Homo sapiens: one gene and its partner. The protein of the gene in region 2 interacts with the protein of the main gene of each other region in a pairwise test. Each region holds a gene or a part of one and is shown on either strand. Other genes may lie near its edges. The genes, in order: SMCO4 and SLC41A3.

Evidence for each region.
Region 1: the proteins of SLC41A3 (region 2) and SMCO4 interact in binary tests that used the Homo sapiens proteins (3 or more experiments, as listed by UniProt).

Annotation. Positions count from the first base shown.
Region 1 is NC_000011.10:93,536,679-93,540,498, forward strand, and holds part of SMCO4 (single-pass membrane and coiled-coil domain-containing protein 4), read right to left. Parts: intron 1-3,820.
Region 2 is NC_000003.12:126,005,694-126,008,647, reverse strand, and holds the end of SLC41A3 (solute carrier family 41 member 3), read left to right. Parts: intron 1-1,422; coding exon 1,423-1,632; 3' UTR 1,633-2,083; coding exon of another isoform or gene 2,084-2,241; 3' UTR 2,242-2,291; downstream 2,292-2,954. UniProt on the Homo sapiens protein: Na(+)/Mg(2+) ion exchanger that acts as a predominant Mg(2+) efflux system at the mitochondrial inner membrane.

The DNA of each region.
Region 1 (3,820 bases), on a different chromosome or scaffold from region 2:
GGTGCTGGGTGAAGGGGAATGTGACAAGTCTGCTGTGTCCTTCTGCACTATTTAAATGCAAGGGCAGGCTGCAGGAGAATACATTTACATATTACCTATATGATTTCAGAAAAAAAGCACCTAAACTGATTAAAAAACCACCACCACCAAAACAAGCTACTTATGCTGATGTGAAATTGCTGCACCAATTTGAACAGGTTTCTATGCTGCACTTCCAGGTCTTCCCAAGACTGACAAAGTTCAAGCCAATTTCTGCAGTACTGATGACAGACTGAATTGGGACTAACAAGGAAGAAGGAAAATGTGGGATGCAAGGAAAACATCTGTAAAAGCTCTGTGGAAGCTGCAAACCAGTCCTACCCTGAACCTGCTCATCACCAAAACTCACTAGTTCTGGGGCCTTCCTCCCTCTCATCCCTATAGGATGAGAAATAAGCCAAAACCGGAATCAAGAGAGAATTCCCTTTCCCACGGCAGAGGGAGGCCTCCACTGTCACCAGCAGAGCTGCTCCCAGGCAAAGCCAAAGAAACGGCCTGGCCAAACTCCACCTTCCTGACAAAGGCACCATGTGCCAGGCTCCTGGGATTGCAGGGACAGCCAAGACTGGCAGCCCTGAAGCCCACGCATTTGAGTCCCTCCACTTCGGCAAACAGCCCAGGAATCTTTTCACACTCACTACTGAAATCCAAACTGAACCAGTATACAAATCAGATGGTCCTGCCAACAAAACAGGAACAAAATGGAAAAAAGGGTGATAAATCAATGATATCCTGGCTAAATATATACTTCTTCTTTCTGCTTGCAGGGGCACTGCTATAGATTTAAACCTTTGATAAATATCTTTTTTGCTTCCCAGTAATAATTAAAGCAAACACACCCAAACACGCACCTAAACACGAAGCAAAAAGAACGAGAAAAGGGCTTTGCTCAGGACATAATGTTCAAGAGGTAGGCATGACAGCTCATATCCACAGGCAGAAATGCTCTTCTCCCATTAAAACATGTACCTGTCTGGCACGGGTTCTTACCCCACAAAAGAAACAACTGGACACTCTAGGGGACTGCCGAGAAGTGCCCTCAGAACAAGAAGAGGTTCCCTCTTTGAGGGAAAAGTGTAAACATCAAGCAGAAAGTGGGTGAGCAGACTCTTGCACGGAGTGACTCACCGGCAGAGACAGCTTGTTGCTGGAGATGCTGGGAGCAGGCAGGTCCAACAGAGGTAACCTGGCTTCCTCCTCGCAGCGAGAACACAGCCCAAATAAAGCCAGAATCTGACCACCTGACCTCCGGCCTGACCAGAGCCAGCACAAACTCTCAGAAGGGCAGGGATGTTGCACAATTTGGAAAAACGGAAGCCCAAAAGCAAGTTTATGACCACGTCTGGCACTGACTAGGGGAAAGGGCACAAAACCAGTATATTCCTGACATGGCAACAGTGCGTCCTACCGATGACAGGACATGCAGACCCCAGCCAATCATCTCCTTGGGCTCTGATGCCCGCTTCCCTGAGCATGGCTTGGCGCCCCGCAGAGACTGCACCCGTCAGAGGAGGCTGGCCTCGACTCCTCTTGGGGCTGGCCATTATGTTCACTGCCACTCCTGCTTCCCAGTCAACCCCTGCAAGTTTGGTGACCACAAGTTAACCCCATCTAGGGCAGATCAACTCTTATGGAATAGCCAAAACTGAGGACCAAACCCTGGTGGGTCCCCTGTGCCACCAGGGAAGAGGGGTGTGCAGACAATACCCCAGGAAGGCGTCTTCCCTTCCACACTTCTAACCTTGACTAGCATTTCCCAAAATGCAGTCTGAGGAATCCAACTTCATTCTCTGCGATGCTCCTGGAAAGTTAGGAATGATAAGGCTGGGGTGGCACAGGGAAGGGAAGGCCCTTTCGGACTGTGCTCAGCCACCTTTCTCTAGCTGTTAGCAGAGACCAAAGGAGGCACTTTTGGTTTCTGCAGAGATTGCTTTTAGCCTGCACATAGTCAGCATCTCCAACACCCATCCCTGGGGCATCAGACCTGAAATGGGAAGGGATGATGCAATTCTAGTATCCAAAGGCACTAAGCTCTATGGATTCCAACAAGCCCCCTCTTCTCCGCAACCACTGCCACTGTCTTAATGTCTTCTGTTCAGGCCCTCATCTCTCAAGACATTACTTTAATGAACTAGTTTCTCTACACCTAATTTCTACTTGCTTCACTTCAAAACTCCAGACAGCCACCGAGCTACCTTTCTAGAATACAGGCCTGACCCTCTCTGCCTACAGGACTAAGTCCCAACCCTGGCACAGCATGCAAGGCCCCTGCCTGCCTTTCCAGCTGGAAGCATGGGCTTTGGAGTCCTACAGATCATTGCAGTGACACTTAGATAAACCACTTGCTGGCTATGTGAACACACATGTGTTTCTGCACCCATTTCCACATCTGTGTGTTGGGAATAGCATGATCAGCCTCCCAGAGCTACTGTGAGGACCGAATCCAAGTTCTAAAGAGCCTAGATCTCACCAACCTAGCTCCAGGGTCCTCTCTCTTTCCCATCTTGCTATACCAGCTCTTCATAATCAATGAGAATTGACTCAAGGGTAAAAAAAAAAAAATACATGCAAGATCTAAAAATGAAGGGTCATAAATTTAAAAATTAGGCCACCACAATGTGAAAGAAACCAAAATTAACTCATTATCAAAATAATGTAGGAGGACGGAAGGAACAGGAAGAGAAGGAAAACAGTACATTTAGGAAGAAATGCTTTTAAAATATAAGTCTCTATGATGTTTTGAGCCTCATTTGCTCCAAAGATTTAGGAAGATGACATTTCAAAAGCTCACAAAGACGACACTTCTACTTTTTAAAAACTATTTCCTAATTATTATCTTCAGAGAACTAAGAAGTACTTTCACAGACTGAATGTTAATAAAATTCTCAGAGGAAATTCTGGCATCAGTCACAACAAACACCCTCTTGGAATTTAATTTCCTTTCAGCATACAATTTACTATGGAAACTCATTTGTGATGCCACCACAACCAGTCAAAATCTGCCTGGAGCACAAAAACTTCAGAGTCCCAAAAGAGGGCCTTAAAGGACTAGATGGAAATTGGTCCCATATTAAGCCAAATCCTGCATCTAACAGAAATTTCCCCCACACCAAACTAGCTTTGACCGTCAGCCAGCCCACTCCTCTCTCTAGCTGCCCTATACTATAGGCTCTTCCAGGGCCCCCTTCCAGCTAGAACCCCCTGAATTCTGTATCTTTTCCCTGTCCAACAAAATTAATTTAAAAAAAAAAAAAAGGAGGAAGGCCACAAAATGGGCAAAGGGAAACCAGCTACATCCATTTTCAACTTTCTATCAAAGACCTGTCCTTTCTGGCTTACGATTTTTTCAATTCCCTTGGACAAGACAATCACAGGCCCTGGAATATTCATTGCGCGTGCTGGGGCTTAGGGTGGGAAGGCAAAAAGGCTAGAAGAATCATTGATAAGTACAAAAAGTACTTTAAGCCTTTTCCCCCTGAGGACAACTGCTGAAAGACTTACTCAATCCCATTGACCCAAGTACCTGTGTGCAAGGGAAAGGAGTGGATGCCAATCTTTACTCAGCACCCACTGCAATTAGTGGGTACATTTCTTGAATATAAGACAGACAGTATTATCCTGATTTTACACATGTGGAAACCAGGCTCAGAGAGGTCAGGCAGCAGGTTCAGTATTTACACCCAGGCCTGCCAGACTCCCAAGACGCTTGAACTTAACCACTTCACCACACTGCTTCCAGAGTCTACAAGTGTTTATGTTAAAATGTGCTGGGTTAGGGAGC
Region 2 (2,954 bases):
GAGGCGGGTGGGGGTGGCTGGACGTGTGGGGCACAGTCCTTATCTTCCAGGAGTTGAGTCAACTTGTCAAATACAGAGGCCATTCCACACTGCACACCACATGCTACATGCCACACACTCCACACCACACAGCGCATCCCACACACTCCACACCACACCACAAACTCCACACCACACACTGTACCCCACACACTCCACACCACACACTTCACACCACACACTCCACAACACAGTGCAACCCACACACTCCACACCACACACTTCACACCACACACTCCACACCACACAGTGCACACCACACACACTACACACTGCATGTCACAGTGCATGCCACATGCATGCTACAGAGTGTGTGCTGCATGCTACATGCTATACAGCTTACGCTACGTACTGCACTGCATACTACACATGTCATCTTGCACATCACTCGTCACATTATGTACTGCATGCTAGACACGGCACACAACATGCCACACACTGCGCGCAGCACATTCATCATCACAGGATAAGAGGAGCAGCCCTGAGGATGAAGCATGTTCCCACGGAACAGGCTGAGGAGTGGTCCAGCTATCCACTGCCTCCCCAACGGTGGGTGGGCAGGGCCAGACCCCTGCAGGGTCTGCTGCTGCAAGGCATGCGTAGACATTGATCAGGGCTGGACAGCAGTAAGCATGGTGAAGGAGATTAAGCTGGTGCCTGTGTTGGGCAGGTATTCAGCACACTGCCTAGACTGCAGCGGGCTGATGGTCCCCAGTGGGTCTGGGGCCTTTGCAGGGAGCACCGTGGGCGCTGGAGGGCAATTCTATGGGTGTGGTGCTGGTACTGGCACTTTCTCATCTCCCAGAGTTTATGGCATTTGTAATTGTGGTATGTTCCTGACCCTAAAGGGTAGGATTAGGGAAATCCCAGAAGTTGTCCTGAGCAGCAGCAGCTTATGACTCCAGTTGGGGAGAAGGAAGGAGCTGGGGTTAGCCTGGACAAGGGATTGAGGAGCCATGAGACCTGAGCAGGCTTGTGTGGACTACCCCATGGCACCTTCAGGAAGGGCTGACTGTCCTAACCTCCAGGGGAGAAGGGCTCAGGCAAACCCAAATGGACATCTCGGCAAAGTCCCATGAGTAGAGCCTATCGCAGCAGAGAGAGCCCCAGCTGGTGAGTGGCAGTGGGTCTGATTGGCCCTTCAGGGTGCCAGAAGCTGGGCCCACTAGAGGGAGGCTAGGTAAGTACAGATGAGGGTCACCTCTCTAGCCACTGCTTGAGCTCGGAGCTGGGCTTCAGACCCCAAGAGAAGCTGGATGAAGGAGGCTGGCTGGGGTTGACCTGTCCACCTTGGTATCTCTCCTTGAGCCTCAGCTAGTGCTTCCTGCCTGTACTTGACTTTCTGACTTGGTCTTCTTTTGTGTCTCTTTGCCCTTCTGACAGGTGACAATCCTGCTGTACCTCGCAGAAGTGATGGTTCGGCTGACTTGGCACCAGGCCCTGGATCCTGACAACCACTGCATCCCCTACCTTACAGGGCTGGGGGACCTGCTCGGTACTGGCCTCCTGGCACTCTGCTTTTTCACTGACTGGCTACTGAAGAGCAAGGCAGAGCTGGGTGGCATCTCAGAACTGGCATCTGGACCTCCCTAACTGGGCCCCGCTGGTCCCATTTGCTCATTAGAATTTCCTCTCACATCAGTGGGATACAGAATTCAGTTTCTCCCTTGCCAGGTCCTTGGGATGGTTGACCCCTGCCTCTGCAGTAGCCTTTTGTGAGTCTGCTAAGGTAGCTCTCACACACCTCGGCTCTGGGGTTGATACCTGAGCCTGCAATAGAGCCCTGAAATCAAGAGCATGGCTTGAGTGTGTGAATATGATGTGTGCACATGCTTAATGAGCGTGCAAGTGTGCACACGTTTGTGGAGAGGAGGGTGTTCTGGCCTGAGAAGGTAAAGAAGAGGCATGTCCAGTATGCTTTGCAGGGTGTGTTTGCTCTTTTCCATGCCCATGCAACCCAGATTGGGGTGGAGCAGGAAGGAGCTCTTTTCTGTTCCCAAGCCTCAGAACTCTTGAGCTGTGGCTTACTTGCTGTCTTCACCAGGTTCAAGCTCCGTGGGCCACACTGCTGCTGTGCCAAGAAGGTGTACAGCCTCCCCAGGATGGGGCCTCATACAACCCTTCATCTGCACTCAACATTTAATCGTGTCCTTGCTGTCTTTTTATTTTCCTTTTTGTTTGTTAGCAAAAACCTCTATTTAGATTTCAATAATCAGAGAAGTGTAAAATAAAACAGATTATATTGTACTTGACCCTTTATGTCTTTAAAGATAGTTAATGCAACCCTGAGGCTTGGGGTCTATAAATAACAAAAGCATCTGGCATTTCTCTAGTGCAGTGTTTCTCAAAGTGGCCTTCAGCCTAGAAACGTCAGTGTCACCAGGAAACTTGTTAGAAGTGCAAATTATTATCCCTCACCCCCTGGCCTGACTAGCCAAATCAGCATTTCTTGGGAGTAGAGCCAGCTATATGGGTTCCACAAGCCCTCCAGGTTTCTCATACACACCCACGTTTGAGAACTACTACTCGAGAACATCATCTTTAAAAAATGTATGATCATTTCCTGTCTCTTATTAACTCATCAGGACAACTGTAGCCATGCTTGGACTTGAAGATTATTATCTTCATGTGGTAAAACAGACATCTATTCATGTATTCAACAAATGTTGATATAGAACCTCTTGTTTTAATGTTCTAGAAGGAAAGACATGGTACATTAACTGGAATAATTGAGCAGACTTTAAGGAAGGCACAGTTTATAGGTGCATGGGGACCAGAAGAAGGGGTGAAGCATCCTGGGGCCAGGCACTACCAGACATTCACCTGTCCTGGAGAATAGTTGGGATTGTGGTTTCCTGAGATGCATGGGGATCTCTAAGAAAGAGACACAGCTACATCAGCTTGTGGCCTGGCAG